2 separate regions of the Homo sapiens genome follow, and region 1 is reported to be linked to region 2. The links are microRNA targets in miRTarBase. Many come from high-throughput screens and were not tested one by one. Region 2 holds a microRNA gene; the other region holds the end of a gene's coding sequence.
Evidence for each region. The annotated mature microRNA hsa-miR-190a-5p reads UGAUAUGUUUGAUAUAUUAGGU and lies in region 2 at 2,912-2,933, opposite strand. An mRNA with a match to its seed (bases 2 to 7 or 8) in the 3' UTR can be bound and repressed. Matches are read on the target gene's strand: a 7mer-m8 pairs with bases 2 to 8, a 7mer-A1 pairs with bases 2 to 7 and ends in A, and an 8mer does both.

Region 1: miRTarBase lists HBS1L as a target of hsa-miR-190a-5p. The part of its 3' UTR that is shown has no 7-base or 8-base seed match.

What each region holds. Positions count from the first base shown.
Region 1 is chr6:134,961,172-134,965,556 of GRCh38, forward strand. It overlaps HBS1L (HBS1 like translational GTPase), which reads right to left. Exons shown (of 18, transcript NM_006620.4): 18 at 1-4,119. The coding sequence ends at 4,108. Among named protein-coding and RNA genes, the nearest start is that of ALDH8A1, 13 kb to the left of the region's middle.
Region 2 is chr15:62,822,501-62,826,903 of GRCh38, reverse strand. MIR190A (microRNA 190a) reads right to left here and starts at 2,947; the gene lies at 2,863-2,947. All of the region lies in intron 54 of TLN2 (talin 2), which reads right to left.

The sequences.
Region 1 (4,385 bases), not on the chromosome of region 2:
GTTTTATGGGATTATCAGAGTAACAAAATAATGTAGTCCCTTTATGGACTATAAGTAACTTAATGCTTTTCTTTCCCTATTTCATATCCCCATATTTGGTGCAATAATTTAATTCACTTACTTCATTATTTTGTTTTGCATTGTATTTTACACCTACATTTACACTATTAACTTATTTGTACATACTTAAATGGTTTCAGTGTGAAAAAGCAGCTTCTGACCTAGCATTCACACTAGGCGGTGGCGTTCTCCTGCTGAACATTTAACAATTCTCAAATCTCTAACATCAGATGAGGTCACTGTAATCCGGATAAAATGAGATACTGTAATCATGCCTGAGCACAGATAAAAACAAAGTCACTGTGCAAACCATAAACAGCCAACCTCTTCTTGTGGCTAACATGGGTGACTGTTGCTTCTTTCCTTTCCTCCCACCCACAACATAAAAATTAAGATACCCAGTTGCAAAATCACTCCCACTTTCTGACAGCACTCAATCCACTTTCTGACAGCACTCAATCCAGAAGAAACCCTTGCTCACTTGAGCCCTCCTTAAAATTAGCTACATGTGCTCAAATTCTTAGCAAGCCCCTCCTTACACCTTCCCACTGAGAAGCACCCATAGACCCCAGTGGTGTGCAGTCTCTCTTGCTGCAGCAAGCATCAATAAAACTAATTTTGATTATAATTATGCCCTGGTGATCTTTGATGACATCAACAAATGATGAGCATCAACAAATGTTTGCCGCAGAATTTTCTACCATCACCTACCCTCCAATCTTAAAGTTTTGAATTATCTCTTTATGATACCCTGTCCCCTGGTTGGACTATCAGCCCTATTAAGACTCAAGCCCCAGAGCTTTCTCTTGTGCCTGGAATATGGCAGGATCATAATTAGACGAGGAAAGGATGAATGTTTTTCTACTTACATATTTCTATAAATATTTTAGAGGGAAATTAGAAGATGATTCAGTAGTTTGTATTGGGCCTACTTGTCTTGATTTTTTGAAAACTGTATAATTTTGAATAACTTCTATATATCAGGATCTGTAATTGTTATTTTTATATCAATAAAAAAAACCTCTAATACTTCTATTGAAAAATATTGATTACATAACAACATGAAAATAACTTGGCTAACGCTCACAACTATGTAAAAAAATGCATTGGAGAGACAGAAAAGAAATACATGAAAACATTGGCAGCAGTTACCTTTAGGTGACAGAACTGTGGGTTAATTTTATTCTTCCCTATATTTTCTGTATTTTCCAAATTTTCTGAAGTCACTATGATTGCATTTTAACAATGGTTAAAACTATTGATTTGCATACTCATGGGAGAAAAACAGCTATGCCTAGAAACTGGCCTCTAAAACATTTCTCACAGTAGAGAGGCTCAATTGTCATGAATGTGTGAATAATACTAACAAGTCAAAACATAGTTCTGTAATGTGTTCAAGCCACATTATCCTAGAGGTTAACTGCTCAGAAGAATCTCACAAAGAGTCAAAGTCAGAGGACAAAGCCATTAGTGTGAAGAAACAGTAAAATCATAAAAAAGAAGACAGTCAGGACAAGAAATACCTGAAGCAAAATGACACAAAATGGATGTACTATAAATTATGGATGAAAGTAACAGGGTAGGAAATCAGAGCATAACCAAGCTTGGGCATGTCTGCTTTACCTCTTTGTCACTTAATCAACTCGAGCCTTCCACTGCCAACAGTCTTCTTACACAGTGGATCCTCGAAATAATATCACCACTCCTTTCAACCACAATCAATCATCAATAAAATGCAAATAAAAAGATTGTACTTAAACACTATTGGAGAAGGAAGGAATGAATAAATGCATTCATTTCTACTACTATTTGTTTATGCTAAACTGTAAACTAAAATTCTTAATTCGATCACAGTCTTATATAATATACAGAGTGGATGGTTTCTTGTTTTTACTCCCCCTACCTTAAACCCCAATCCATTTCCCCTTCCTAACAGCACCCTGAATTTCCAACCCTCACACAACTGTTAGCTACATGCTTTGTGTGATATTAACTTCACACTCAAACACAGGATATCCTAGGGAAGTATTAATAAATAAAATTCAATCATAGTCAATGATGAGATGTTTCTAGGACTTCTGGAGAAGATATGCTCTTTTAGTCTGTCCTTGCCCTGGATGGGAGATCTGAGGATGTAAGTGTGGAATTATCACATCTTGTCAAGAACCTGGCATTACAGAAGAGGTTTTTTATGGGTGGCAGGGTGACAGGTCTTGCTCTGTCACCCAGGCTGGACTGCAGTGATGTGATCATGGCTCACTGCAGCCTCGACCTCCTGGGCTCAAGTGATCTTCCCACCCCAGCCTCCTGAGAAGCTGGGACTACAGGCATGTGGCACCACACCCAGCTGATCTGTTTTTAAATTTTTTCTGTAGAGACATGGTCTCACTATATTGCCTTAGCTGGTCTCAAACTCCTGGGCTCACGCTATCCTCCCGACTCAGCCTCCCAAAGTGTTTTGATTACAGGTGTGAGCCACCGCGCCCGGCCGAGAGTTCTATATAGAGTTTGAGAGCAAAACCAGCACCAGGGAAGGCAGAGTGGAGATGAGTCCTTGCTAACATTGTGTGAGCTGCTCGATCTAAATGGAATCAAAGCTAGAGCTACCTCTAATTTTCTCAGTTATGTCATTCAAAAATTTTTCTTTCTGCTTCAGTCACTTGAAGTTAGATTTCTGTCACATATATCTGTTAAATTCTTGATTAATATTAATATTTAAATAAAACTTTCTTAACTCAGTGAATCTGAAGTGACAACTACACATGTATTTTGGTAAAGCAATATACCAAGTGTGTTCACTTGGTAATCATTCACTAAGCAACACATGTATAATCTGCCTACTTTACCATACAGATGTTATTGCTTATGTTCAAAATGTCAGGTTCACGAAAAGGTGCAGGGAGAAGAAATGCTGTTGTATATGTTAAGCCATCGATATACAAATCACGCTGCTAATAAAAAAAAAAGCTTATCATAAACAGTCTATCAGATCAGAGTTCCAGGTTCAGCTGAGGTCAAAATCTACTCTAAAGCTCCTTGCACCCAGAAGGCACCTCAACGAATACCTGTTGTTAAATAAATAAACCTTGGGGTTTGTTGTTGAAACTTTAAAGAAAAACATGACTCTTACTTACTCACAGGGGACTTATAATCTATAAGGTAAGCAAGATAAAGAAAGGGCCATCATAGGTATAATTCTAAAAGTGAGAATGGGAAAAGCAAGTTATGGTTAAAAAAATGAATGAGATGAAATTGGATCTGCCATTAGGATAAAAAAGAATTCATGTGACAGAGCTAGGAAACTCTTAGGTGAAAAAGATCCCACAAAACCCCTAAATCATATTTACTGTTAGTGGCAGAGAATCTCATAAATGTCTAAAGAACAAAACACAGTTTGTATTATGCTCAAACTAAGGCATTTTATTAGCTGGCTTTACAACTTAAATAATATCTTGGCTTTCAAAGGAACAGCTTCCACTAATTCCAAATTAAACTTTCACAAGTTTACTTGTTTGGGGAGGGACATTCTTATGGTCACCACAAAATACTTTTATTATAACCTTCCCCAAATCTTTTCTTAGCATTAACTGGAAAAAAAAAAAAAAAAAAAGCTTAGGTCAAATATCAACTGCCTGAAAAACCCAATTAAGTTACTTTTCCTTAAAACATGTGCAGTATAATTGAATCAAAAGAGAAAACTGCAAATACATTGTGCTTTGGCCAGAAGTAGAGTTCATTTCATGATGATTCAGTATCTTCAGATACTATTTTTGACACTTGCCATAAATCTTAGCAAAGTAAATCCATTTATTAACGTTTCAAAGGCAAAGTTGTTTTTAACATTAGACTTTCTTTGCCAGTTGGCAACTTAGAATTTTTGCAGAGGTGATTATTAATACTTCTTTGCAGCTAATTTTAGCTTTAATTTTTCTCTCTCATCTAAAAACATATCAATTGCACATTGTTCCTTTGACTTAATAACTGCATTCTTGAAACAGAGGTTAGCTATTTCACTGTATCCAGAAACGTGGTAGAAATTCTGACCCATCATTCTTTTATCTGTTAAAACAAAAAAAAAAAAGACATTTGCTGTAATTTAATCAATCACATTATAAGAACAACAAAGGGAAAATTATGGTGAAAGAATTATTATATCAAGAGAAAATCTTTTTCTTTGTCCTGCAACTTTCTTCCTTTCCTAGTCATGCCATTTCTGCAATTTACTATAATCTCTCCATTATTCTCCACAAATGACTCTATCTTATTTTTAGAATGCTCTTTTAGAAAGAATGCCTTGATAGATTAAATGTGATATTGATGGCAAC
Region 2 (4,403 bases):
ATCAGAAACTTTAAAAAAACCCTCTTGGATATATATTTTTTAAAGTGTGAACATTTTGCATTTAATTTAAATGTCCTTGAGGGAAAAAAGGAGGCCAGTGTCTAGAACTCCCACAACAGGAGTGAGGCATTTTCCTGCCAGTTGGAAGCCGGAGTGGAGCAGGCAGCCACATTTCTCTTTTTTTTTTGTTGTTGCAAGTTTGGCTGCTACTAGTTTGCTTCTGGTATTGAACTGAGAGGTGCCTTGAGGGAGGCCTTAGCCTGTATGCAAAGCCCCAAACTGTGCAAAGGTTAGATCAGCTTCTCCTCTGGAGGACCCATGGATGGGGTGGCTTCAGGACTGCCACCTTTATTAGTTCAAACAAAAGGTACACCTCCCAGAACAACTGGAACTGCTAAGAGCCAGGCATGGACAGCTGGCCTTGTCTCAGGGAAAGCTCCAGAGAGACCTTAAACAGGCAAAATGGGTGGCAGAGAAACTGCCAAATGGCTGTGCCTGTGACTGGGGAGGGACCACACCCTCCGCATCCGAGGAATACGCGCGAGTTCATGCAGTGTCTGCTGGAAAAGGTCCGCACCTGCATGATTAGTATCTTGGGAGTAGTTTTCCCATAGTATCCATTGCTTTACTTTTGTGTTCAAAATGGAAAGCAACGCCACTGAAATAATCTTTTAATCACTATTTCTGTTTAAGGGGCCCTTGAATGTCGATATAGAAAGCACAGACAAAAGATAACAGGGTTCTTCCCAAGCTGTATCAGATAAACTCCCTACATCTTAAGCCCCCTTTCTGTGTCTGTGAAGGATCTGACAAGGACCTACTGGTCTACCCTGGAGGGGAGTCTCCCATACTTGCTTTTCTTATTTATTTATGTTTTTGAGACCGAGTCTCACTCTGTCACCCAGGCTGGAGTGCAGTGGCACGATCCCGGCTCACGGCAACCTCCGCCTCCCAAGTTCAATCGATTCTCAGCCTCCTGAGTAGCTGGGACTACAGGCGTGCACCACCATGCCTGACTTATTATATATATATATAAATATATATATATATAATATATTTATATATATTATATATTATAATATATATTATAATATAATATATAATATATATTATAATATATAATATATTATATAATATATAATTATAATTATATTTAATATATATAAAAATATATTTTTATATATATTTATATTTATATATATATTGTATTTTTAGTAGAGACTGGGTGAAACCCAGCTGTTGGTCAGGCTGGTCTCGAACTCCTGACCTCAAATGATCCGCCCACCTTGGCCTCCCAAACTGCTGGGATTACAGGTGTGAGCCACCATGCCCGGCCCCATACTTGCTTTTCACACCCTGTATGCTCCTGGTCTGGAACCAATGAGTGCCACTCAAAGCCCAAGTGCAGCCATACAGAAAATGCTGTATTTGTCCTCCTCCTTCCTGAACAGTTGGTTCCTTTTTCCCTTCACCATATTAATCACTACAGAGAACATGCTGGTCAGTGACAAAGTCACCCAAAGAAACAAGAAAATCACATCAATTCAAACAACTGGGCTTCGTCTGCAGGTCCTTTTGAAACCATGTTTTTCTTTGTTCGTAATAACTTGCTGTCTCTTTTCCATGGCCATTTGCCATTTCAGTCAAACAATGTAACTGGACTCAAAACCAAAGCCGGTGTTCTCTAGCTGTGTGAAGGAGGGACTGATTGGGGCAGCATCTTGAAACCCGCCTGACAGAGCACCTGCCAACACACACAGATCGCTTCTCAATGGAGAAGGATTCCAGAGACAGGATCCATTATGTAACTCCAGAAGCCAGGACTCCAACATTACAGGACCCTCTCCTGTGTCATCACCTCTCTGATGTTGCTGTTGGTGACCCTGTCACTATGCATTCACCTGTAAGCAATGTGGCAATGACTTCTAGACACAGTAAGGGGAAGCTTTCATGACTACCTGTTTAAACCATTTGCTTACACCTTTTCTCCTCCAAAACATTGAGAACAGTAGTTCTCTTTCCAGAAAGCAGTGCTCACAAAGTATTTTGTTTGTTGAGAGAACTCAGAATGAACTCACACATACTTCACAGGCTTTTCTATAAGGAAGAGGTCAAAACCAACCAAAGAAGGCTGTTATGTACCAGAAAAAATGTTTTCTATATCATAATCCCAAACTTCCTGCCACAGTCAATTAGGCTATGATATTACTTTCCGATTGTTGGCTTATTCTAAATATTACCAACCTCCACTGACAAGTTAACCTATAACAGGAAATTCAAGAGTTCAGTCAACATTATATTACCTTCATGAGATATATTTAGTCCTATATCCAAGGTTTGTACAAAGCTCACTGACTCAGTATCCATGCAGCTGGTATGGAGGATTTGCTTTATACATTCTGTTACTGTGAGTGGAAAGGGAAGTCATAGAAAACTGATCTGTGCTCCTTGAATTTTTGCTGAAACCCTGACATGAACTTCTAAATTGAAGATCAGGATAAAAATGAACCAAAATGAAACATGAATCTAGATGTGTTTGAGGCTATAATCCTGACCTTTATTCTGTGTCACAGACATGGGTTGGAACCGTTTTTTCCACCAAGCATATTGAATTCCTTAAGGATTCATCACTGCACAAAACTAAGCCACACAGAATACCCCAGGCTCTTATGAAACATCAACACTTATTGTTTCTATAATAAGCAAGTAATCCAGTAATACTGATACAGGTCTCAAATGCTATAAGAAGAAATGGAAGATAACATGAATTGTAATGAGTGCTCCATCTTCTAAATCTACTTGTGATTTTAACGTGTTCTTTCCTGTTGCCTTATAAACTTTATTAGGAACCCCCGGAGACAGGGCAAGACACTGTAGGAATATGTTTGATATATAGTTGGATTAAATAACAACCTAATATATCAAACATATCACACAGAGGCCTGCAGAAAAGGCATCCAGGTTTGACTGAGCTCGAGACTAGGCACAGTATTGAAGGTTACGGCTGCAGGGGGTGGTCACTTTTGCAGCAACTCCGATAACTGTCTTTGGAGCACAAGTCTGCCTGCAGATGTGGAAACGGCGCCATTAACAATACTGTCAGCACATGCACCAGCGCTCACTGACATTCTCATCTCCCCAGGTGAACAGCAGATTCAACGGTGCATGTCTGGGAGATCCCAGGCAAAAAGTGATGCTTAAGTTTTAAGAGCCTGAGGTGGAAATGTACCAGAATCATCATCAAAGACCATGAGCCATTCTCCTTTAAAAACAGGCAACCTGAGACGGTGGTGAGCAGAGCATTTTAGACAAAATTACTGTCTCTCCCCAAACTCTTCCTGAAAGCAGTGTGAATACTCCCCAGAAGGAACACACATCCATTTTATACTGAAGGCATGTGTGTGTACCAGGGTAGGGTTATAGGGATGTAATAAGCAATTGTTTACTGACAGTACCCTGAGGATTTTTTTAAGGTTTTGGGAGAGAATGGAGAGAAGTGATTCAACTCAAAAGACTGGCTGATTTTGGTGCAGATTGTTGTTATTGTTTTTTAATTGGGGAAATAAATTCCTTTATAAAGGCAAGGAAGATATTTCATGCAAAAGTTATTGCAATGTGCCCTATTAGGCACAAAAACTATGGTTTGGGTTGCAGGTTTTCCAAAACAGTTTCATAGATAATATCCACCTCTGGCCATCAGGCAGAGAAAGACTTCAGACCATTGTGAAGCATTCTAGAAGTACCCATCACCCTTCCTAATACGATGGGAGTGAGCTAAGGTAGGAACCCTCAAACAAAGGATTCACATCATCAGTTATGTTAACCTTGACCTTGGCCGAAGGACTCCTTGGCTTTCCTGTAAAAACCCTCAATGTAAACACAAAGGCTATATGATCCTAGAGTACTGTAGGGAGTCCTCACAGGCCTACTTCAGCAGTCATTAATTTTTAAGGTGCTGTTATTTTTTAAACCTTTGTTTTATAAAATGTTAAAACACAGACCCTTCCATCATCCCAATTCCATCATCATTCTTGTACATTCCCTACTTATTTTCTTCATCTGTGAGTTTTTAGAGTTGTAATCATAATAAGTACATAATTCTGCATCCTTTCTGTTATACCATGAGCATTTTCTTCGTGCTACACAGTCCTAGCAACCATTATTTTTCATAGCTGCATAATATTATAGCTGCATAATATTCCTTCGAGGAGTAGCTCTAAGGGCACACATAAACTACAAATGGCCTTTGTGGGACTAGACAAGCCTTCTCTGACAATGGGGTGGGAAACAGGGGCTGGTATGGACTGAAACTGCCACCCAGGGCCATACATAGCCCTCCCAGCTGAGTGACAGTGGTCGGACCCTGGCAAGGTAATTCGCCTCTTGGTGCTTCTGATTCTAAT